7 linked regions of the Homo sapiens genome follow. The protein of the gene in region 5 purifies or fractionates together with the protein of the main gene of each other region. This does not show direct contact. Each region holds a gene or a part of one and is shown on either strand. Other genes may lie near its edges. The genes, in order: EPB41, CROCC, CEP164, TACC1, KRT222, CCDC102A and HSPA12A.

Region 1 (3,500 bases), on a different chromosome or scaffold from region 5:
TCAGTCTGGAGCAAAGTACTCAATACACTGTTGACTATTACTAGATAATCTGAAGATAACAACCAAAAACAGTTACAAAACATACAATGAAAAATAAAGCTCAGCCTAACAGTTATAATTTATGGACCTATTATGTTTAAATCAGCAGTCATGACTTCCTGGAGAGCAGGGCTTAGAGCTATGTATACTACCAAATATACACGCACAATTATTAATTCTTGTTTTTTTATGATAAAGTGTTAACAGCTCCAGAAATGATGTTAAATGTAGGAGTTGACTCTATTCCTATATAAACTCAGCATAAGACAATCTTAGGTTCTTAAAATTGATGTTAAGTATATTAAATTAAAAATATGATCCCTAAGTCAAGAAGTTACATTAAGGCACAATGAAATCATATTTATATGCCTCTTTATTAAAGACAACTTTAAAAAATTAAATATGTAATATTAATCATCTATGTCTATAATTCAAAGAAAATAAATTTCACCTAAGTTAGTCCCTACAGCTAACAGTTTGTTTAGCTAAGTAATCAAAACACAAAGTTAAATGCTTCTTGACTACTCTTTCCCCCAAAATGAGTATAGAGAAATATATTAGTGCCTACACGTGTTATAACAGAGAAGCAGGAATTACATACAGTTCCAATTCAGTGACTATGTAACTGAGAATTTCCCAGAAGATGCCCTCTTAAATTTTTAAAGCTTGTGGGTATAACTACATTTCACTTTGGAGAAACAATTTGCTTTACAATATTTGGGAAGGGAACATGCTGCCTGACTCCATCAATACCTGAATTGACACCAGCTTCCAGCAGGAATTGTGAAGCAAAATCTAACCATTTCAGTTTTAGAAACATACCTAATCTGATGTACTGATCTTCCTACAATATACTTTAGAGATTCATAGAAGTTGTAGTACCCAGCCCAAAATAATCCAGAACAACTTTTTTCTTTTTTTTTTTTTTTTTTAAGACAGAGTCTCAACTGTCACCCAGGCTGGAGTGCAGTGGTGCAATCTAGGCTCACTGCAGCCTCTACCTCCTGGGCTCAAGCAATCCTCCCACCTCAGCCTCCTGAGTAGCTGGGACCACCAAAGGCACGTGCCACCATGCCTGACTAATTTTTTGTATTTTCTATGGAGACGGGATTTCACCATGTTCCCCAGTCTGGTCTTGAATTCCTGAGCTTGAGCGATCGGCCGCCTCAGCCTCCCAAATTGTTGGGATTACAGGTGTGAGCCACCACGCCTGGCACTGGACCTCCCCAGCAACTTTAGTAGCTGAAGAAGAGAGAAGTAAGGAGACTTTCCTTAAGGATTCATTCTGTTAGGCTGTATTAGGTAGAACTAGGATTAAAGCTCAAGTTTCCAGGGCCCTACCCAAGTGGTTTTTGAATGAGCCACTGTGGTTCATTCAGTGTGCATCAGAACAACCTGGAGAACTTAAAATGGATTGCTGAGCTCCACCTCCAGAGAGTCTAACTCAGCAGGCCTGGGATGGGGCCTGAAATGTGCATTTCTAACAAGTTCCTAGGTGATGTTAAATGTTGCTGGCTCAGACACCATACTTTGAGAACCACTACTCTAGGCCAGTGGTTCTCAGATTCAGGCATGAATTAGAATCATTTGGGTGCTCATTAAACCAAGACATTCTAGAACCTCGCCTCCAAATTAATTCCATACATCTGAGAGAAGCTCAGGGATCTACATATTTAATGAACATCCTCAGTGATTCGATGTAGGTGATGCTGGCTGTGAAACAGGACTTGCTGCCCACTGCTCTATATTTTCAAATGTTACTGCATGTTAGGAAAATCAATTTCTTTTTCTCTAGGGGCTATCTTTTGATCTTAACAGTAGCTTGGATATGAAACTTTATTCTGAGGGTGGAATTGCTATGGGGCAAATTCAATTGATACAGTTGACTGATTTAACTGATACACTTAAAATGCTAACAAGAGGCCGGGCACGGTGGCTCACGCCTGTAATCCCAGCACTTTGGGAGGCCGAGGCGGGCGGATCACGAGGTCAGGAGATCGAGACCACGGTGAAACCCCGTCTCTACTAAAAATACAAAAATTAGCCAGGCGTGGTAGCTGGCGCCTGTAGTCCCAGCTACTCAGGAGGCTGAGGCAGGAGAATGGCGTGAACCTGGGAGGCGGAGCTTGCAGTGAGCCGAGATCATGCCACTGCACTCCAGCCTGGGAGACAGAGCAAGGCTCCATCTCAAAAAAACAAAACAAAACAAAAAAAAGCTAACAAGAAGTACTATTTCTCTCTCTTTTTTTTTTTTGAGACGGGGTCTTGCTCTGTCGCCAGGGCTGGAGTGCAGTGGCACAATCAGGGCTCACTGTACGCTCGATCTCCTGGACTCAAGTGATCCTCCCGCCTCAGCCTCCCCAGTAGCTGGGACTACAGGCATGAGCTGCTGTGCCCAGTCTACTATCTCTTTTGAATGTTTTAAAATACCCCAGATGTTGTTAAAAAGTATTATATGACACAGATGTGATACATACATAACAGACATGTATCATATAATATCTTCCACATGCATATTAATAAAGGGCAAAGTTATCATTACCTTTGCTTTATGAAGATCAACTCCATACATAGACAACTTTTTGGCATTCTCAAGAAACTCCAAGTCAGCCTGAGCTGGAGTCATGGACCTTTGATAGAATAAAAACATAAAATTCTTTCAGTGTTATAGTGTCATCATTTACAGTAACATTTATATATTCACTGTATTTTAAACACATGAACATATACATACCACTATATTAAGATATATTTCCTAGTCCTGAAAGTAGGTTATTATGGAACAGAACCCATCACTGCCTGTATCTAAATAATTAAAATATACCTTAGAAAAAGACAATGTGAGCAAACAAAAAGTCACCAAAAAGCTGCAAAAAAAATTTTTTTAATCCTACTAAACAATTTCCTTAAAGCTATTTCATCTATCATTAGTTCTGCCCCCTTCTCTTCACTCTTTTTCTCCGACATACATAAGCTCCTCCCGCTAATTTTTCTTGCCAAGGAGATGACCAAATTAAATCCTCAGAGGGCATGGTGTAATTTACAATATCCTCTTATAGCTGCCTTTTTCTCTCCATACCCCTGAATTGAGTTATGGAAATTAAACAAGAGGGCAGCTGATGTTACTTAACTGAGGACTCTTAATCGGGGCAGGCTTGATGAAAAGAAAATTTCTGGTAACAGATGGTGTCCTGCCCACTGATATAAACAAAATAAACTGGTTCACGGAAGCACATAGATAATGGGGCTGTTTTCTCTGTTATTAATATGTCTTCATTACCAGGCATATAATGAATTAGATTTGTTTGAAAACAGTCAGTCTCACTGTCTAAACACTCGCTGTGACAGTCTTTTCTTCTCCTCTATAAATTTCCCGTCTTTTGAAAAGTGTTCATGAGCTGTTATATAGAGCTTTCAAAGACAAAAATATCACTCCTAATGCTGCACAATTCAGACCAATC
Region 2 (3,267 bases), on a different chromosome or scaffold from region 5:
TGTAGTCCCAGCTACTCGGGAGGCTGAGGTGGGAAGATCACTGGAGCCCGGTAGGTCGAGGCTGCAATGAGCTGTGATCATGCCACTGCACTCTAGCAAGGCAGAGTGAGACCCTGTAAAAAAGAAAAGAAAAAAAAAAGAAGAAGAAGAAGAAAAGAAAGAGAGCTTGGGCTTTGGGCTGTCATCTGCCTGGTTTTCATTTTCCTAATCTGTAAAAGGAGGAGCAGTGATTACGTCACAGGGTGACACACACAGGCTCTTATCACAGGTGGTACTCAGGGGGCCTCTGTTTTATGTCTCTGTAGTTCTGGGGTTTTTATGTGTGTTTGGGGGACAGCTATGTGTGCCAGTGTGTATGTGCGTCTGTCGGGCAGGAAACTCAGGCCCTGGTGGTGACAGTGCAGCCAAAGCTCCCCTCTGCCCTCCCCAGCCTGTCCCTCTATTACTGCTTCCCCCCACCACCCCCGCCCCCAAGGCCTCTGGCCTGGGGCCGAGCTTAGCTGGATTGTTGTGTCTGCGGCTTCAACCCTGGCCATGGGCCCAGCCGCAGGGGCTGCAGGAGGAGGCCAGGAACAAAGCTGGGCAGGAGCCAGAGTGGGGGCCCCAGACAGGGCAGGGCTGGGGCTCTGGGCAGGGTGGCAGAGGGGCCAGGCTCAGGATAGGGGCTGGGGAGGCTCTAATAACACCCCCTGTTGATCCACCCTGTCTCTAGGATAGTACCAGGGATGGGAGGACCCCTAGTCTGCCTTCCTGTCCCATCCCCACTCCCCAGGCCTTTTTCACTGGCTGACCCTGGGCAGGGGAGGGGGAATCACCACCTGAAACCCTAGAACAGCAGGGCCCCCTCAGAACTGTCCGGCTCAGCTCAGTTTGCACGAGTCAGTGGGGCAGGAGAAGGGCCTTGGAATCTGCATTTCTACAGCCCCTCCTCAGGGCTCCTGTGAGCACCCAGGTTGTGGTACCCTGGGACCAATCCAGTGTCCCTACTGTACAGATATGAAATGGGGCCATAGGGCGCGAAGGGGCAGTCCTGGGTTCCACAGCCCATTGGCCTGGGCTAAAACTGGAAGGTGGGCTCTGGGATCTTCACGTCCACTCATCCTGGGAACGCATGGGGAGACCGAGGACCCCAGAGGGTCCCAGGCCGGCCCCAGGTCACGTAGGTCACCCTTCGAGGCTGCTCCCCACTTTCCCCCTAAGGGCCCCAGGGCGTGTGCGGGAGGGCTGCGGGGTGCACTGGACGTCTGGGCCTGAGCCCCATGCCACCTGCAGGAGAAGATCAGCAAGATGAAGGCCAATGAGACAAAGCTGGAGGGCGACAAGCGGCGCCTGAAGGAGGTTCTGGACGCCTCCGAGAGCCGCACTGTCAAGCTGGAGCTGCAGCGGCGCTCGCTTGAGGGGGAGCTGCAGCGCAGCCGCCTGGGCCTCAGTGACCGCGAGGCCCAAGCCCAGGCCCTCCAGGATCGGGTGGATTCCCTGCAGAGACAGGTGGGCCCCTCCCCAAATCACAGCCACAGTGTTCACATGCCCTGTGCCAAGAGCTTTGTAGGCACTACGCAGTCCCCCAACAACCCTGTGAGGCAAGTATTACCCACATCCCCATTTCACAGATGGACAAATGGAGGCTGAGAGGTGATGTCATTGTCTAAGATCCCATAGCTAGTAAGAGGCAGAGCCAAAATTAGAATTCAGGACTATTTGATGACAGCATCTGCATACATAGGAGTCATCTGGGACAAGTTAGAGATGTAGGTTTCACTCATTTCCCTTTTTGCCTTGACTGCTAGGAAGCTCAGCTCTAACTGGAATGTTAAATAATACGGCTAGCCTTGCCTGAACACCCAACAAGGTCAAAAATAAAAAAATTTTAGGGTCGTGGTGGTTTCCCTTTCTCTTCCACAGCAGAGAGGAGAGAGGAGTGAGGACAGGGAGGAGACCAGGGAGTCTGAGACAACTAGGTTGATGGCACTCTGGGCACTAGTAGTTAGCCAGCAATGGGATGGGGCCCAGGTGGCAGTAGGCTGAGCCAGCAGGAGTGCTTAGGAACACTGGGTCTCAATGATGGAGGCCCAGAGAGAAGTGGGAAGGGTGTGGATTGGGCATGCCAGGTGGAGGTCACAGTGGGAGCAGAGGTATAGAGGCCAGATGGGAACAGCCCCGATTGTTCTGGCTGTCCTCCTGCCAGGTGGCCGACAGCGAGGTGAAGGCAGGGACCCTGCAGCTGACCGTGGAGCGGCTGAATGGGGCCCTGGCTAAGGTGGAGGAAAGCGAGGGGGCCCTGCGGGACAAGGTGCGGGGCCTGACAGAGGCCCTGGCCCAGAGCAGTGCCAGCCTCAACAGCACCCGGGACAAGAACCTGCATCTGCAGAAGGCTCTGACCGCCTGTGAACATGACCGCCAAGTACTCCAGGTCTCGGGCCCAGGGTCTGGCTGGGGTGGGCCCAGTGAGAGAGTCAGCCAGTAAGAGCAGGCTTGGAGGGGGGCCCTGGTAGAGAGCCAGCCAATGGGGCAGTCAGTTGGAGCCAATGAGAGCAGGCTTTGAAGGGAGGGCGTGGGCCCAGTAGACCATCAGCCAAGGAGAAGAGGCTCTGGGTATGTCCCGTAAGAAGACAAGGCTACTGGTATAGACTTGGGGGGACCCAGGGGCAGGGTTTATTGGGGAGAGTTGGGGTCTGAGTGGGTCCCACCTTATGCAGGTCAGTGGATAGGCCGTGGATGGGTTTGGTGTGCACCCCACCCTCCAGGTGAGATGACTGCCTGTTTTATGCTCTGTGGACCTGTCCAGAGGTACAGAATAGAGAGGACTCCTTAGGGCTCCCAGGCCAGCCAGGCACCATCAGCCCCTGTCCCCCAGGAACGGCTGGATGCCGCCCGGCAGGCATTATCTGAGGCACGGAAGCAGAGCAGCTCCCTGGGCGAGCAGGTGCAGACGTTGCGAGGCGAGGTGGCTGACCTGGAACTGCAGCGGGTGGAGGCCGAGGGCCAGCTACAACAGCTACGGGAGGTGAGGGCCAGGGTGTGCCCCCTCTGTCCCCAAGACTGTGAGGCCCTAGGATAGGGTGGGGACGTTCCCACCCATCTCAACCTCATCCCAAACCCTGGTGCAGCCTCCAGTAAGGAAACATGGTTCATTCAGAGCATAGTCCTGTTATACAGATGGAGAAACAGACTGAGAGAGACAGGTTTGGCTTCAGGTGACAATTCTCTGATGTGGGCCTCACCGTCGCCTGCTCTGTGAGTGGGCCAGCCTCATTGTCCCCAAGCTTC
Region 3 (3,500 bases), on a different chromosome or scaffold from region 5:
TTTTCTAGAGCCTGATAAGGTAAGGAAAGAAGGTAGAATACAACCCACCCATATTTTAATTTTTTTCTGGCAGAACATTTATTTGAATTTGGATGATCCATGAATTCAGATTTCCCAGAGTTTTCCTGATCTTTAAGTAGTTAAATATATCGCCAGGTGCGGTGGCTCCTGCCTGTAATTCCAGCACTTTGGGAGGCCAGGGCCGGTGGATCACCTGAGATCAGGAGTTTGAGACCAGCCTGGCCAATGTGGTGAAATCTAATCTCTACTAAAAATCCAGAGATTAGCCAGGCATGGTGGGGGTGCCTGTAATCCCAGCTACTCGGGCAGCTGAGGCAAGAGACTAGCTTGAACCTGGGAGACAGAGGTTGCAGTGAACCAAGATCGTGCCACTGCACTCCAGCCTGGGTGACAGACTGAGACTTCGTTTCAAAAAAAAAAAAAAAAAAAGGTAAATATAGATCATTATGTATATAGCAAATTAGTCTTGTTGCCATGTGGACAGAGACTACCTGTCCTGTGCTTGCTGGAGATGGGATGCATCTAGGGGATGACATTTCTCAAATGCAGAATTTCTCAAATTCTCTGAGGTAGTTAAGATAGTACCTCGTATAGAGCACATGCTTGGGAAGTGCTTATTCACCCTAATGTTCAGGCCACCATTGGGCCCTCCCTGCCCGTGGATCCTTTCCTTTTTTCTTCTCCTCTCCCTAAGAGGATTAAAGATTCAGGTGACTCTGTAAGCCACCAGGCAGTGGGCCCCATCTGCCACCCGGGTTCCTGGTCCTTTTCTGCTCAGCTTTTTAGTCAGCAGTGGTCAGGCCTGCGTCGCCTCTGACTGTGTGTGTAGCACAGTGGGGCATCATGTCTGCAGGATGTTACGGGTTCTTCTGAGGGTTGGGAGCACATTCCCACTTCAGCTTATGTACTGTTGAAAGAAGCCCTTTTCCTTTGGTGTTTTCTTCCTGCTTGGAGGTGGCATGGTGGGAATGAGGGGCAGAAGCTGGCTCCCTTCAGGTTCAGTGCACTGACAAAGGGAACCATGTCTTGTGAGTCCTAAGGCAGGACTCCTCTGTTGCCCACCCGTTAGCTGTCATGGTACAGAGGGGGGCCATAGTAAACAATCCCTGATGGATCCTTTGTTGCTTGTCAGGGGTCTCTAGGAACCTTGGAATAGGTTCAGAGTCTCCAGATCCAGCCATTTCCTTTCTAGGCCAGATCTTGACTTTTTTTTTTTTTTTTTTCAACCAGGAGAAATAACTTTATTTGGACTGAGAGCTGGAGAATGAGAATAGGACCTGAGAGTATATTGGGCTAAGGAGGAGAGGTAAGGTTCCAAAACGGCGGTCAAAGCTCATCGACTAAACGGACTCTACTTCCCACCAAACTTGCAGTTAGTGCAACCAACAAAAGGCCTGCTGGGGAATGTATTTGCCACTAAATTCCCCAAGTATGCCAACATTACAAAAAAGATAGAGGTTTCTAATCATAATTAAATTTCCACAAACCTCCCCAATCACAAGTATTATAAGCAGAAGTAAAAAAAAATCACATTTTACAGATCTCAAACTTGTCTTCAATATTTAGTTCATCATCTTCAAAAAAATAGCTCCCCTGCTAAACTCATTAGCTATCTGATCTATCCAAGCAGCAAGAAGATGGCCAGGCCATGGCAATCCTCTTCCCATTTTCCCTATCCATTCAGGGCTCAACAGCAGGGTGAGGCTCAGGTTGGGGGTGGGGTGGGGGGAGCACAAGGGCTACTTTCCCCCAGTACAACATGGCTTCTGAAGCTTGATGGGAGAGCAGAACTGGTGAGACTTGAGGGAAGGGTCCAGGGCCTGTATTCAGTCAGAATCGCTGCTGGAAGAGGAGGAGAAAGAGGAGGAGGAATGCTTGCCATGCTTTTGGTGCTTGTGCATCTTTTTATGAGCTTTCTTCATTTTATTCTGCATCTTCTTGTCCGCTGTCACTGCTGGTCTGACCATGCCAGGAGCCAAGAGATTCACAGGAGGGATTCCAGGGGCAGGCGGTGGGTATGGAGGAAGGTGGGGACCCGAGGATTGGCATCCTGGATACCCTGGCTGTGGTACAGGATGAGGGGCCCCACCTGGGAGGAAAGCTGGATTGCCCTGGGGAACTCCTAGGGGAGGAGGACAGGGGCCTGGGGGAAAGGGTGGATTGATAGGTGGTGGGTGGGCAGGATTGGAACCTCCAGGGCACCCAGTGTTGGGGGATATGGATTTGGCCCTGGCTGTCTGGCATTGGGATTCCACATGTTTAGGTGTGTCCTCCAGCCTTTCCACGGCTGCCTGGGCTTGATGCGTTCTACCAGATCCTGATGTTTTTAATGGCTGGGCCTTTCTGCTTGAAGAGGGCCGTTTCATCCTTGCTGCTCCAGGAGGAACAGTGGCAGCTTCTGAGGAAGTGGGGACTGGAGAGGTCAGGACTTGTGGCTCCAGACTCCTGTTGGTCACATTTGGTGTGGCCAACTGCTCTGCAGGTTGGGGAGGTGCTCTGAGCAGGTCTGTGTGTGGCAGCAGTTTCCCAGGCGACTTCCTTCATCAGGCTGCAGCATGGGAGCTGCCATGGGGAGAGTTGGTGGGAACTGGGGTCCTGAGGTAGGGGTGGGAAGAGAGGAGCAATTCTAGAAGTGCACCAGCTTCTCAGTTGAAGAATTTGGCACCGCCCCATCCCTGGAGCTAGAAACCTTGGATTCAAGCTGGACTTCTGTCTTCGCTTGGGCTGCCGTAACACAATACCGTAGACTGGGGGGCTCCAACAACAGAAATCTCTTTTCTCATAGTTCTGGAAGCTAGAAGGCCCATATCAAAGTCTGTTGCTGGTTCCTGTCTTGCAGACAGCTGCCTTCTTGCTGTGTCCTCAGATGGTAGAGAGAGACCTCTAAGCCACTAGACAGTGGGCCCCATCTGCTGCCCTGGTTCCTGGTCCTTTCTTCCTCTCCTTTTAATCCTATCAGGCCATTTAACCTTAATGACCTCATTTAACTTTAATTACCTCCTAAAGAACCAGTCACATTGTGGATTAGGGCTTCAATATGTGTATTTTTCTTACTTTGAGAGGCTGAGGCGGGAGCATTGCTTGCACCCAGGAGTTCAAGACCAGCCAGGGCAACATAGTGAGACACCATCTCTGTAAAAAAAAAAAAAAGTAAAATATATACATATGTGAATTTTGAAGGGATGTAGCTCCTTTCCACTTTTCCCCCATATCCTGGTCCTATTAAGCTTAACATCACTGGGTCTGTTCTGACTGTCTCTTCTTCATTCCCCTGCTTCTGCCCTAGTTAAAGTCCTTATCATCTCGCCCCTGGGCAGCAGCCTCCTCAGGTGGTTTTCCTGACACCAGTCTCTCATTTCTCCAATCCAGCCATGCCAGTCTTGCCAGAATTCTTGTCCTAAAAAAAGGCCACCCTGTGATACTTTGTTTCACCAGAGCCCTCAGTGACTCCCCTCTGGTGTAGGACAGGGTGGAGGCTC
Region 4 (3,500 bases), on a different chromosome or scaffold from region 5:
GTGGTTCAAACCTGAAATCCCAGCATTTTGGGAGGCTGAGGTGGGAGGATCACTTACTTGAGCCCTGGAGCTCAAGATCAGCCTGGGCAACATAGCAAGACCCCATATCTACCAAAATATATATTTCATATATATATAACTTGATGGGCCCTGAAATTTTGTTTTGTTTTTTTTTAAGAACTACTTTATTGAGATATAATTCACAAACCATACAGTCCACCCTTTAAAATATATGATGCAATGGTTTTTAGTAAATTCACATAATCGTGTGACCATTGATGGGCCCTGAAATTTGGATTTCACATTATTTTCACACATCACCATTAAACCATCAAAAAATGTAAAACTCATTCTTCTGTTCAGGGCCATGCAAAAAAACAGGACAGGCAGGGCTTGGTCTATGAGTCACAGTTTGCTGATTCTGATCGAGACTACCAAAATTGTGTCAACAAACAACTTGGCATTCCCTCACAGGCCTGAGGCAGTAAATATCTGTGCACAGATCCCATTTATCTCTTTTCTTCTATTCTGGGGAAAAGTCCAGAGAACTACAGTTTGTGTTTGAAATACCTAGGCATTTAATTAACACATCAAACTGGAGAGGTTTAACGAGTTGTTCCAAGGGTGATGTGAGAGCTTCTACACTAATTAAGATTCTCTTTCTCAGAGAGAGGTAACAATCTGTAGATAAAGGTGTGTGTGTTTGGGGAAGGGGGGCTATGTTGGTGAAGGAGAAACTCAAGGGGCAGAGGGCACCCACTGCAGTTTTTGTGACTGAAACAGCTACACAAAGCCACAACCCCTAAGTCCTCCATAAACACACATGCAAACACAAAAGCCAGGCATGGTAGCTCACGCCTGTAATCCCAGGACTTTGGGAGGGTGAGGCAGGAGAATCCCTTTAGGCCAGGAGTTCGAGATCAGCCTAGGCAACATAGCAAGACCCTATCTCTACAAAAAATAAAAAAACTGGCCAGGCGTGGTGGCTCACGCCTGTAATCCCAGCACTTTGGGAGGCCAAGGCGGGCGGATCACGAGGTCAGGAGATCGAGACCATCCTGGCTAACACGGTGAAACCCCGTCTCTACTAAAAATACAAAAAATTAGCTGGGCGTAGTGGTGGGCGCCTGTGGTCCTAGCTACTTGGGAGGCTGAGGCAGAAGAATGGCGTGAACCCAGGAGGCGGAGCTTGCAGTGAGCCGAGATCGCACCACTGCATTTCAGCCAGGGCAACAGAGCGAGACTCTATCTCAAAAAACAAAACAAAACAAAAAATTAGCCAGGCATGGTAGTGTGTGCCTATAGTCCCAGCTACTCAGGAGGCTGAGGCAGGAGGATCATCTGAGCCCAGGAGTTGGAGGCTGCAGTAAGCTATGATCATACTACTGCACTCCAGTCTAGACATAGATCCTGTCTCAAAGCAAAACAAAACAGAGGATGAACTTGAGATTGTACCTCCTCAAAAGTCCATTCCTAGAGGATGTTTCTTCACCAATATATTTCCCAGCAAAGAGAAAGACCACCACAACAGCAGCAGCATTAAACAACTTTAGTGGGAGAAAACAGACAGATAGCAAATACAGACCAGCCCAAGCTTTACAGCTACCAGTCTGGTTATTTCCAGGAAATATCTTTAGCTAGAGTTTTATTTTACCAGTAAGCCTAAAACCTGCTTCTATATGTGGCTTCAAAAAAAATCTACAACCTTATCCGCCACTTAACTCCTGGCATACAACTCTTAGGAAGAGTCATTATAGAGTTTAGATACTGCAAGTTCCTAAAGCAGTTCCAGTATAAGAAAAGTCATTTCAAAATAGTCTTAGATGTTTCCCTGAGTTCAAAGAACTATACAGAAGTCAGCACAGGAGCCATGGGTATGGTAAATGTAGCCCACACGTTTGAGGGCCATTATGTACCAGGAAGCCAGAATGTTTACATATTTCAACTCCAACTCCTGACTAACTCCTCGTAAATCATTCTTCCAGAATGATTTAGTCTTATATAATTTATAACTGCGGTCCAACCATGTCTTGGAACCACAAAAGTATGAAAGACTATCTTTACCAGGAACAAAACAATCAATAATTTTGGGAGAAAGGGAACTTATCCAGTCCCAGAAATTAAACTTCAATATGAAATGACTCTGAAGGGCTTTCTGCCCACTGAAATCCTCTCCAGGCAGACCTGTGCTCTGGCTGTCTTTGCACATTTGCTGTGTATGTGTGACAAGGCCATTGGCGGTACTCTGGACTAGCTCCGGATGTTGCACCCAAGGACCCTGGAAGTCAGGGTACGACCAGGTTGATGAGCAATCATCCTATTGTTTAAAGACCCTAAACTGAAAGCCTTCATAATATGCAGGGTTGTTTCCTGGACTGGACACTCCTCTACCCCTACAATTACAGTCTGCATTCATGAACTACCCCATAGAGCCTTCATGATCCATAAACATTTAAAAGTTTTCCTTTTAGAGAGAATGAAAAAAATGTGAGAGTCACTGGTACAGGAAGGACCAAACAATTGGGTCTCTGTGGTTTTGGGGGCCTAGGTCATCCAGGCCTCTATTCAATTGGCAAAGAATCTGGCGGGATGAATCAGTCTAGCAGCTGACAAAACGATGAGGAAGGGCCGCCCAAGCTGATGGCAATTCAAAAAGGCTTTCAAACAGCTCCTTAACATGTGTCTTATGAGCTTTATTTAAATTTGATGGAAAGGCCACCAAATAGTTCTTTCAAGCTTCAAAATCTCCCTTCTGATCTGCCAATCTTTACGGAAGAAAAGGGAAGCTATGAGGAATAAGTGTTATCTTCATCACTGAGAGTGCTACACAGCTATGCGTCGCACACAAATTCTCCAGTATATAAGCTTGCCTATTCCCATGTTGTCCCTGCCTAGAACAATGGCAAAATGCAGCCTAGGGCAAGTTGAGGGTATTGCTGAATTCTCAGCTGGGTAAGCACAGCATGGAGCTATCAATTTAAAGCAAAACCAAATCAGCTTTTTGCTGATGTCATTTTACCAATAATTCCAGCTCCATCATGCAGTCTATTACCAGAGTAACTTGACTTCCCTAGGCAACCTACGAAGAAGTTGCTAAGCAATAAAAATACTTATTAGGGAGAGGAGAAAGTCACAATCAGCACAAAGTTTAGGTAGCTAGATAACTGAAAGCTGGCGCTGCCACTTCAGGGTGACAGTGCCAGATACTGGAACAGAGAAACCACATAAAAAGGACTTCCATCCTAGAGTCCCTTCTCCACACAGCAGCCCAGGGAGCCTTTTACAAAAGAAGCTGAATCACAATCCCTCTGTTCAAAGCTCTCTGTTGTGGGCTGAATTATGTCTCTCAAAATGATATGTTAAAGTCCCAACTCCTAGTACCTATGAATGTGACCTTATCTAGAAATAGTATCTCTGAAGATGTTACCAAGTTAAGATGAGGTCAAACTGGATTAGGGTGGGCCCTAACTTCAACGACTGGTGTCCTCACAGGAAGGGCA
Region 5 (3,500 bases):
GATTTAATAAATGTCAAGATTTATTATAGGCTAAAGTTGTTTCACCTAGTTTTCATCTAGTTTTATAGAGGACTTAGAATTTGGAAGCAAGCAAGAATAAAGATTTTTTCATGGAGAATTGGAGGTTATGTCATGCTCAAAGCAATATGACCTTATAAGTCATTACAGATTATGATGTATGAATTAACAAGAATTCCTCTTTTGATATCTTTTCCTATCAGGATATCTGGTAGTCTTTTAAATCATGACTCAAAATAATATTGCTTTCCGTGGTTGTAATATAATTACGTTAGAGTAATGATTACTGTTTTGAGGTTTGATGTGTGGTATAGGGTGAGCCCTTGATCAGGGGGATTGTGGTGATTGTGAATTTTCCAGGCTTTTGTTATGGGTGATCCTTAGAAGGCACAGACTAATCCTAGAAGAGATGAATGGCAAGGAAAGTGAGAAAGTTAGGAAAGGTCTCTCTCTCTCTCTCTCTTTTTTTTTTTTTTTTGAGGTGGAGTCTCACTCTGTCGCCTGGGCTGGAGTGCAGTGGCGCAGTCTCGGCTCACTGCAACCTGCCTCTCCTGGATTCAGGCGAGTCTCCTGTCTCAGCCTCCCGAGTAGCTGGGATTACAGGCATGCACCACCATGCCCGGCTAATTTTTGTATTATTATTATTGTTTTTTTCTTTTAGTAGAGACAGGGTTTCGCCATGTTGGCCAGGCGGATCTTGAACTCCTGACCTCAGGTGATCCGCCCACCTCAGCCTCCCGAAGTGCTGAGATTACAGGCGTGAGCCGCTGCACCCAGCTCAGGAAAGGTCTTTTTCATGATTAGCTCATTGTAATCCCAAACTCCTTAAGCAATCCTCCTACCTTAGCCTCCCAAGTAGCTGGGACTACAGGTGTGTGCCACCATGCTCAGCGAATTTTAAAATTTTTTGTACAGATGAGGTCTCACTATATTGCCCAAGCTGGTATTGAGCTCCTGAGCTGTAGTAATCCTCCTGCCTCAGCCTCCCAAAGTGCTGGGATTACAGCAGTGAGCCACTGCAGCTGGCCAAGACTACAAGATCATTTTTGTAGTAATCTAGAATTGTTTACATTTTGTTCTAGGTGACTTTGGCTGTTTGGTTCCTAATTTTGGAAGACTAGAAATGGTTCTTTCATATATTCTTTGCAGTGCATACCTTATTGTATGGGCTCAGTGAGTACACCATGATGATGATGGGGTTTTTGGATTTAATTTCTCTGACTACATCAACAATGGCATAAGTGGCTCTGTATTTCTGGCCCCTTGTCATTAACTAAATGGATTTAGGTACCTGATTTCTTCTTTTTCTAGGAGGTGGCGATAAGTTGCTATTTCTTGTTCCAGCCTCATCTTCGTGTTGAGAAGCATCTCGTGCTCTTGAAGCTGCTTTTCGATGCCGCGCCTTACTTCCTGTAGCTCTTTTTCTAGTCCTTCAATCACAGTCTCTAGGTCTTGCAGCTGCATCTGGTAATGCTGCTCGCTGGCATGTAGGGAGTTTTCAAGGCCCCTTTCCTGTTTTATATAGATTTTCATCAGTGAATCAGTAACACAGAATGTGTTTCTGAAATCTGATTTGCAATATCTTCATCTTTTTTTTTTTTTTGAGATGGAGTCTCACCCTGTTGCCCAGAGTGTAGTGCAATGCCATGATCTCGGTTCACTGGAAACTCCACCTCCTGGGCTCAATGATTCTCCTCCCTCAGCCTCCCAAGTAGCTGGGATTACAGTCGCGTGCCACCACGCCCGGCTAATTTTTTGTATCTTTAGTAGAGGCGGGGTTTCATCATGTTGGCCAGGCTGGTCTCAAACTCCTGACCCTGTGATCCGCCCGCCTTGGCCTCCCAAAGTGCTGGGATGACAGGCTTGAGCCACCGCGCCTGGCTGTCTTCATTCTATGTTCTATTTTTTTCTTTAAAAAGATTGCAATAATTTTATTATACCTATGCAAGAGGTGTGTTTCCTTACAGCTTTGTGTGACCCCTAATTATTAAAAAATTATATTTTATTTACATAACTAGAGATCTTACTCTATTTCAAAGACATCCTGTGATAATTCTTACTGAAAAAAAAATCCTCTGCAGTGTGATTAACTTATTATCACTCTGAATTATCTGATTTTTAAATTATTGAAAGTATACTTCAGAGGTAGGCTTTGTAAAAAAAAAAAAAAAAAAGAAAATATAGTACATTGAGTATCAAGGCCAGAGCAGACTGCTCATAAAAGGCATTTAGGAACATGCTTAAATACTTTTTGTTTGTTTGTTTGTTTGAGACAGTCTCGCTCTGTCGCTCATGCTGGAGTGCAGTGGCATGATCTCAGCTTACTGCAGCCTCTGCCTCCTGGGTTCAAGTGATTCTCGTGCCTCAGCCTCCAGAGTAGCTGGGATTACAGGCGTGTGCCACCATACCTGGCTAATTTTTTGTATTTTTAGGAGAGATGTTTTCGCCATGTTGCTCAGGCTGGCTTCAAACTCCTGGCCTCAAGCCTTGGCCTTCCAAAGTGCTAGGATTACAGGCGTGAGCAACTGTGCCTTGCTCCAAACATGCTTAAATATTTTTCTTTCTTTTTTTTTTTCCTTTTCTTTTCTGGAGACAGAGTCTCGCTCTGTCACCCAGGCTGGAGTGCAGTGGCATGATCTTGGCTTACTGCAACCTCTGCCTCCCAGGTTCAAGTAATTTTTGTGCCTCAGCCTCCTAAGTTGCTGGGACAACAGGCGCGTGCCACCATGCCTGGCTAATATTTTGTATTTAATAGAGATGGGGTTTCATCATGTTGCTCAGGCTGGTCTCAAACTCCTGAGCTCAGGCAATCAGCCCACCTCAGCCTCCCAAAGTGCTGGGATTACAGGGGTAAGCCACAGTGTCAGCCTAAATATTTTTTATTCGACGTCTCAATGGCATGGATAAAAGAATCTCCACTGTTAAGACTTTGGATAATAACGAATGCTCTATTCCCTATCTTCAGCAACTAGAAAATCCCAAGGTAATAAGAAAGGATTTCTTCATTTTTACAGGTCTGAACTAAACCTTGAGTGAGTTGGTAACAGCCACTGCCACAATGGAGGGAGGGGTGAGTAATTAAACTAGGATCAGGGATAGAATTCAGTGGCCTTGATTTCCAGTTTCTCATGGTAAATAAACAGACATTCATCTTTTCCTTCTCTTAATCAAATCACATCTGAGGACTCGATGGGTCGGTTACTTTTGGGATCATTCTCACCACAGCATGGAGAGATTCAATTTCCACTTGCAGGTGGTGCCACTGGCGTCGGGCCTCCTTGAGTTCTGCTTGAGCTGCCTTCAAAGCCTCTTCATCTTTGTCCATTTTTTTGCTTATGTCTTCTTCTAGCTAACAAGAAAGCCAACAGCAACAATAACAAACAAAAAACAAGGAGTGCTTCTGAAAATGAGATGTGTAAAAGCAATTATAGAAAAATTGTATAGGAATCAAAGCATTTTTCCTTAACTCATTAGATTATAAT
Region 6 (3,500 bases), on a different chromosome or scaffold from region 5:
TGTCAGCCTCCCGAGTAGCTAGGACTACAGGCACACACCACCACGCCCAGCTAATTCTTCGTATTTTAGTAGAGACAGGTTTTCACCATGTTGCCCAGGCTGCTCTCGAACTCCTGAGCTCAGGGAGCCCACCTGCCTTGGCCTCCCAAAGCGCTAGGATTACAGGTGTAAGCCACTGCGCCCAGCCTGAAAGTAACTTAAAATACACGTGTTGTGATATGGGAGTGCTTGGGCATAGCTCCTCTAGAAGAAATGGTGAAGTGGTCAGAGTGGGTGTCTTTAAATGGGATGATAGTGACGATAGTTATAACAGCAAAGACATAGCATGTGCTCCGAGTCAGGTGTTGTGTTGAAGGCTTACATGTATCTGCACATTTAAGTCACCTCGCAGGACAGCTACAAAGGCGGCTCATGCAGGTGTGCAGACTTAGCAACTCAAAGACACAAGTGGTGTCACTGCGATGCGCTTTCTTGAGAGATGAACAGCCTTTGGTAAAGTTCTGAACAAAGCAAAGTGCAGCCGGGCACCGTGGCTCATGCCTATAATCCCAGTACTTTGGGAGCTCGAGGTGGCAGGATCGCTTGAGTCCAGGAGTTCCAGGTTGCAGTGAGCTGTGAACAGACAGGAACAGGGTAGTCTTTAAGAGATGAGCCTGGGGTACAGCAGGAGGGAGGTACTTGCCCAGAGATGCCCAGTGCTCTGGAGCCCTGACCACCTCCCCACAATATGAGCTGGGCACTTGCACTTGGGTAGGGAGTGCAGTTCCAGGGAGTGAGCTGTGATCTGCACTCCAGCCTGAGCAACAGAGCCAGATCCTCTCTCTAAAAACAAAGAAAAGTGCAGTCTTCCTTCAGTTTATACAGTGATTCCATTCCTAGAAAATTCAGTGTATGTTAGTATAAAAATTACTTTCTGTTTCAATGTAAATCAGAATGAGGCTGTAGGCTCAGATCATCTCTACCCCGAGCAATGTCCAGTGGGCTGTGCATGCATTCAGTAGGATGCAGGATGCATCCTGATGGGCAGGACGCCCAGGGCATTGCAGGGAGTCAGGCACCCTGGCCCCCGTCCACTAAATGACCCCTAATCATTGTGATAGCCAAAAATGTTGCCATGGGTTTTCAACATGCCTCCTACAGGGTGACGTTGTCCCCTCTGGGAACCCCATGTTGGAGGCATGGAGTGTTCCACTTTCAGAGAGAGAGGCCAGTGTGGTGTGGGGTCATGAAGGGCAGCGTGCTGGAAGGTGATGCTGAGCTCAGCCATTGGTGAGCACCTACTCTGCCAGGGCCAGGCATCATGCTTGTTACCTACAGTGCCTTATTCAAGATCAAGGCAGGGTGGGGGTTATGGGAGGATGTAGGGATCCCACACAGTGTCGATGGCAAGAGAGAACCCTCTCTTCGGGTCACTGGACAGTGTTTTCCAGTGTTTCTATCTGCAGAACCATGTGTTCAGACCAAGCCTTGCAGGGAACATAGTCTACAAAACAGACAGGAGCAGGGTGGTCTTTGACAGCTCTTCGAGAAGAACAAGGTGGGCCAAGGAGTGGAGTGGCCAGTGCTGGGGCCGCCACCTCCTGGAGCCATTTTCAGATGAGCCTGAGGTGCAGCAGGAGAGAGGTACTTGCCCGGGGATGCTCAGTGCTCTGGAACCCCGACCACCTCCCCACAATGTGAGCTGGGCACTTGCACTTGGATAGGGAATGCAGTTCCAGGAGAACTGCAAAGCCAGGGTGCTTCTAGCCACATAGGGTGCCTGGGCCTGAATACCAAGGCAAGGATTTTGGACTTGGGCTCAACAAGTGCAGAGGGCACACAGCAGGGCCACCCTTGGTGAGGACTCCAAGCAGAGGGCCTTGGTGGGCTCACCCCCATGTCTGTCCCTTCCCCAGGGATAAACTGGCGTTGAGCAGGAACATTGAGAAGCTAGAGGGGGAGCTCAGCCAGTGGAAGATCAAGTATGAGGAGCTGAGCAAGACCAAGCAGGAGATGCTCAAGCAGGTGAGTCTTGGAGACCAGAGGGTCTTCCTGGAGGCGGCAGGATCGCGCTGTTGAATTTCAGTAGTGGAGATGGAAGAGAGAATTCATTCATTAATTCATCCAACAGTTGTTCTTTTTTTTTTTTTTTTGAGACAGAGTCTTGCTCTGTCACCTAGGCTGGAGTGCAGTGGTGTGATCTTGGCTCACTGCAACCTCCACCTCCCGGGTTCAAGCGATTCTCCTGCCTCAGCTTCCCGAATAGCTGGGATTACAGGCACCCGCCACCACGCCCGGCTAATTTTTGTATTTTTAGTAGAGACAGGGTTTCACCATGTTGGCCAGACTGGTCTCGAACTCCTGGACCCAAGTGATCCTTCTGCCTCGGCCTCCAAAGTGCTGGGATTACAGGTGTAAGCCACAGTGCCTGGCTTTATTTTATTTTAATTTTATTTATTTTTATTTATTTTATTTTATTTTATTTATTTTATTTTATTTATGTTATGTTATGTTATGTTATGTTATGTTATGTTATGTTATGTTATGTTATGTTATTTTTTCTGAGTTGTTCTGAGTGCTGGGCAGGCAAGGTCCCTGCCTTCAGGAGCTCACTTTGTGGGGGCTGTGGGCATGGGAGACCGACAGTCACCAGGCAGATTCATAATTTATGAAGGAGTCAAAACAGAATGAGAGAGATGGGGTGGTAGGTCAGGGAAGGCCTAAGAAGGTGGCATTTGAGGCAAGACCTAAAGGGGCTAGAGGAAGCTGTCCTTGAAAAGATACAGGGGAGAGTGTTCCTGGCAGAAGGCACAGCGGTGCAAAGGTCCTGAGGCAGGAACAAGCCCAGCGTGTGCGGGAAACAGGGAGGGCCAGGTGGCTGGAGAGCAGGAAGTGAGAGGCGAGGCCGCAGGAGGGGGCCTTGTAGACCAGGATGAAGACGAGGAGGCTGGATGTGGCATTCATTGGGTTCCTATCTGTACTAGGTGTCACTGAAGCCTCATGGCAGCCCAGGGAGCTGGGTCCTCATGTCCCCATCTTACAGATAGGGAAACTGAGGCTCCAGAGAAGGGAATCCACCACTGCAGTGTGGGGGCTCAGAGCAGGCTGAGCTGCCACTACGGCCTCCTGTGCAGGCCTCAATGGCCACCAGAGGGCGCAGCCACCCAGGGAACGCCACACTGGATCGGTGGGTTTCTAGCAGCTGGGAGGATCACAGAACTTTAGAGCCTGAAACTGTCCTGGAGGGGACCAAGACTGGTCTTACATGAGAATCTCTGAGGAAATCTCCTAAAATACAGATTCCCAGACCTCGCCTCCACCCTCCTGAATCAGCACCTTTCAGGGCTGGGTCCAGGACCCTGTTCTTTTAGTCTTTTCAAATTATGAAGTATAATCATTCGAAGAAAAGCGAATGAAACACAAATGTACAATTTAGTAGAAAATTATAAAGGTTCTCTTTTGTATCTGGTGTCTCTCCCTCAACATTATGTGTTGAAAACTCATCCGTGTGTTACAGGGAG
Region 7 (3,500 bases), on a different chromosome or scaffold from region 5:
TGAGGTACAGTTACCCACCCCACTCTCCAGTTAGGAAAGTGGATCTTGGAAAGATTAAGTACCTTGACCAAAATGGCACAGCTGCTAAGTATGTTTCCTGCCTCTCTTTTTGTTTTACTCAGATATAATTTCCATACCATAAAATTCCCAGTTATAAAGTGTGTAGTTCAGTGGGTTTTCGTATATTCACAAGGTTGTGCGCCCAACCCCATTACCTAATTTCATCACTCCTCAAAGAAACTCATATCCTTCAGCAGTCGCTCCTATTCCCACTCCCTGCAGCCCTGCGCAGAAAAAGTCTCTGCTTTCTGTTTCTGTGAAGGTGCCTGTTCTGGACATTTCATAGAACTGGAATCACATGCTATGTGGCTATCTGTATCTGGCTTCTTTCACTTCACATGGCGTTTTCAAGGTTTCTCCATGTGGTAGGATGTATCAGTAGTTCATCCTACTGATGAATAACATTCATTGTAAGATAGATCACATTTTGTTTCTGGCTGAATAACATTCATTGTAAGATAGATCACATTTTGTTTCTCCATTCATCAGTGGATGGGCATGTGGATTTTTTCCGATTTTCGTCGTTGTGAATAATGTTGCTATGCACATTCATGTATACGTGTGTTTGTGTGGACAGCATGTGGACTGTTTCTACTTTTCACAGTTATGAATAATGTTGCTATGCACATTCATGTATACGTGTGTGTGGACATCTTCTTTCATTTCTCTTAGGGATTTCATTTCTCTTAGGGATTTCATTTCTTCTTTCATTTCTCTTAGGGATTTCTTTCATTTCTCCACCCAGGAGTGGAGCTGCTGGGTCCTACGGTAACTCTGTGCTTTACTTTTTTAGGAATTGCCAAACTGTTTTCCAAAGAGGCCGCACCATTTTACTTTCCCACCAGCAGCGTGTGAGGGTTCATCCTGTTGTGTTGACTCCAAAGCCCACACTCTCCCTCCAGGCTGTGCCTCCTACCCTGGCCAGCAGGTGCAGCAGCCCGAGACACGGAGCTGGCACGGGTGCCACCGCCTAGCACACAGCTGGCTGGCCTCAACTATCAGTCCTACCTTCAGCGCCTGCTCCTTAAAGTACTGCAGGGCATAAGCAAAGATTTCAAGGGCTTTGACTTTCTTGCCATTTGCTGCCGTCAGGTCTGTATCCATGGTGAGGTCCTGGTAGGAGGAAGAGGAACAATAGTAAGAAGATGACACAGGAGAAACATGTCTCCTGGCTTTGGGGACTGCTCCAAGGGGACCTAGAGGATCCTGGTGAGCCATGTCTGTGTTCCCCCATGCTTAAAGAGGCAGACTAGGATGGCGCATCCCCCAAAATGGGGGCTGGCAGCAGTGTCCCCTTACTGTGTAGGAGGCTCTGGCTGTCCCCTCCAGGCCCCACCTTCACTGCTCCCTCCTTCTCTCCCTCTAGCTCCTGGATCCTCTGGGAGCAAAGGTTTCAGGGGCAACAGTAGAAGTCAGGAAGAGAGAATAGGCAGCAGGTGCCACTCCCCATGCAATTTCCGTACAATTTCCACATTCGAACACACATGGTCACGCTCAGGATCCCCCCTGATGGAGGCCTAATCGTACCAACCCACTGCCATCCACGATGCTAAACAGACGAAGCTTTCATTCCCCATTACGCTGCCAACCAAGTCACCAAAATAGAAGAGCTCCTATTTTAAGGCTTGCCCTATCTAATCCGCCAGGAGCCCAGCATCACTGCTTTCCTCTCTCCACCAAAAGTGAAAGCAGCTGCTGAGTGTGGTCCCAGAGAGAGGATGCTCTGCAGAGCCTAGATGCTGGTGGACGGAGATCATTAAAAAATGATGAGAAAAGTCCCTGTGGGGTAGGGATGGGCAGGGAGTGAGAGCAAAAATCAGGAGGAAGCCCCCAGGTCTCCTGAACCAACAAACTCATTACTGCCAGGGGGAAAAAAATCACTGGGGCCTCCAGATTGTCCCAGGCTGGGTAATTATGCTTTGCCTTGGGAGTGAAAACGGGCATTGAGTTACTAAGCTAGCCATGTGGAGCCCGTCTGTGGCATCCTGACCTATCTGCACTTGCTCACTCCTCCCAGCCAGCTGCCTTCTGCTCCTGGTGCCCAACAAAGATACCCCAGCTTTAGGGCAGCAGCTCCCAGGCTCAGAAAGGTGGTCAAGTGCCAGGAAACCATGGCTCTGAATTGAAAAAAATCCCTGTGCTTCCTTCCACCTGCCATCCTGATACTCAGCATTGAATCCCATTAGGCAAAATAGGAACAGTTCATTTCTAGCAGAACTTGGTCTGCACCATAGAAGGACAACCACGCCGATGGGCACAGAGCCTTGAAAGGCAGGGTGCTGGCTGCTGAGTTTCCCACTTATGTTTGCTTTGTCATCTGCAAGTGCTCAGCAGACAAATGAAAGCAATTAGAATAGGAGCTTGCACTTGACTAGAACTTAATCTGCACCAGGCATGGCTCTAAGAGCTTTACGTATTTTGATTCCTTTAATCCCTACAAAATCCCCATGAGGAAGGCACTGCTATTGTCTCCATTTGACAGAGAAGATAAAACAAGGCAGGGAGGGGTTACATAACTTGGATTACATTTCTCAAAGGTACCAGTGACCAGATTGAAACCCAGGCCATCTGGCCCCAGAGTCCGTGTTCTTAAACATCATCATCATCCTGCCTTTCTAAGCACTGACAGTTAAGGAAACTTTATGGAATAAAATGCTTAACTCAAAAAAGTTCTGTCCTATGCCCTATCCTTTTCTACGAAGCTTCGGGGTGGCAGGGGGTGCCTGTTTGATGTAGGTGTCTTATGGAACACTGGCTTGCTGGGAGCTGAGGACACCACTCAGGGAGTTGGACCTCCAATTATTGGGCACTTGATGTCCTGAGCTCCCCCTCCCCACATAAAGAGCTGGATGTACCAGTTGTTACTGGTTGTTACATCCAAACTGGTTAGTTAAGAGCTACTGCCCTGAGCTCGCCATGTGTCCCTAGCCCCCAAGTGGATCCTTCATGATACACTGATCTCTCAATAATCCAGAAACTAAAGGGAGAACTCCTGGCACAGCAGGAGGGCCCCAGCACCCCACTTCCCTGGTATAACCAGGGTCTACTCTGATAGGTCCATTTCCAAGACAAACGAGTTGTTAAATATTCAGAATATCTCCCTGCCCACATGCACATTGGAAAGCATCGCATATTCCACAAAAGCACTGTGTGCTCCAGGTTGTGTCTAAAATCAAGGTAAATGGACACTGATTTCTGCTTGGAAGAGACCAGAGGGCCCCCTGGGTTGGGAGGACATCCCTTCCCCACCCCAAGGCTGGAGGAAGCTTGGCACTCCATTGCGGGGGACCTGGGCCCAGGGGAGAGGCTTGCTCACCCCAGTGGTGTGCAGCTTCATCTTGAACTTCTCCAGGTACAGCCACTGCTTGGCCTCATTGGGATCCAGGTCATGGTAAAAGTCCCTGGCGGCATACCCGAAGCTGTGGAACTTCCTCTCGGGA

Evidence for each region.
Region 1: the proteins of KRT222 (region 5) and EPB41 purify together in Homo sapiens (affinity purification with mass spectrometry; one large-scale study listed by BioGRID and IntAct). This does not show direct contact.
Region 2: the proteins of KRT222 (region 5) and CROCC purify together in Homo sapiens (affinity purification with mass spectrometry; one large-scale study listed by BioGRID and IntAct). This does not show direct contact.
Region 3: the proteins of KRT222 (region 5) and CEP164 purify together in Homo sapiens (affinity purification with mass spectrometry; one large-scale study listed by BioGRID and IntAct). This does not show direct contact.
Region 4: the proteins of KRT222 (region 5) and TACC1 purify together in Homo sapiens (affinity purification with mass spectrometry; one large-scale study listed by BioGRID and IntAct). This does not show direct contact.
Region 6: the proteins of KRT222 (region 5) and CCDC102A purify together in Homo sapiens (affinity purification with mass spectrometry; one large-scale study listed by BioGRID and IntAct). This does not show direct contact.
Region 7: the proteins of KRT222 (region 5) and HSPA12A purify together in Homo sapiens (affinity purification with mass spectrometry; one large-scale study listed by BioGRID and IntAct). This does not show direct contact.

Annotation. Positions count from the first base shown.
Region 1 is NC_000001.11:29,029,569-29,033,068, reverse strand, and holds part of EPB41 (protein 4.1), read right to left. Parts: intron 2,670-3,500; coding exon 2,582-2,669; intron 1-2,581. UniProt on the Homo sapiens protein: Protein 4.1 is a major structural element of the erythrocyte membrane skeleton. It plays a key role in regulating membrane physical properties of mechanical stability and deformability by stabilizing spectrin-actin interaction. Recruits DLG1 to membranes.
Region 2 is NC_000001.11:16,966,931-16,970,197, forward strand, and holds part of CROCC (rootletin), read left to right. Parts: intron 1-1,272; coding exon 1,273-1,488; intron 1,489-2,185; coding exon 2,186-2,410; intron 2,411-2,854; coding exon 2,855-3,004; intron 3,005-3,267. UniProt on the Homo sapiens protein: Major structural component of the ciliary rootlet, a cytoskeletal-like structure in ciliated cells which originates from the basal body at the proximal end of a cilium and extends proximally toward the cell nucleus.
Region 3 is NC_000011.10:117,334,354-117,337,853, forward strand, and holds part of CEP164 (centrosomal protein of 164 kDa), read left to right. Parts: intron 1-280; exon of another isoform or gene 281-451; intron 452-1,251; 5' UTR 1,252-1,327; intron 1,328-3,500. UniProt on the Homo sapiens protein: Plays a role in microtubule organization and/or maintenance for the formation of primary cilia (PC), a microtubule-based structure that protrudes from the surface of epithelial cells. Plays a critical role in G2/M checkpoint and nuclear divisions.
Region 4 is NC_000008.11:38,790,236-38,793,735, reverse strand, and holds part of TACC1 (transforming acidic coiled-coil-containing protein 1), read right to left. Parts: intron 1-3,500. UniProt on the Homo sapiens protein: Involved in transcription regulation induced by nuclear receptors, including in T3 thyroid hormone and all-trans retinoic acid pathways. Might promote the nuclear localization of the receptors.
Region 5 is NC_000017.11:40,658,678-40,662,177, forward strand, and holds part of KRT222 (keratin-like protein KRT222), read right to left. Parts: intron 3,368-3,500; coding exon 3,239-3,367; intron 1,531-3,238; coding exon 1,310-1,530; intron 1-1,309.
Region 6 is NC_000016.10:57,519,572-57,523,071, reverse strand, and holds part of CCDC102A (coiled-coil domain-containing protein 102A), read left to right. Parts: intron 1-1,895; coding exon 1,896-2,004; intron 2,005-3,500.
Region 7 is NC_000010.11:116,697,567-116,701,066, forward strand, and holds part of HSPA12A (heat shock 70 kDa protein 12A), read right to left. Parts: coding exon 3,377-3,500; intron 1,174-3,376; coding exon 1,069-1,173; intron 1-1,068. UniProt on the Homo sapiens protein: Adapter protein for SORL1, but not SORT1. Delays SORL1 internalization and affects SORL1 subcellular localization.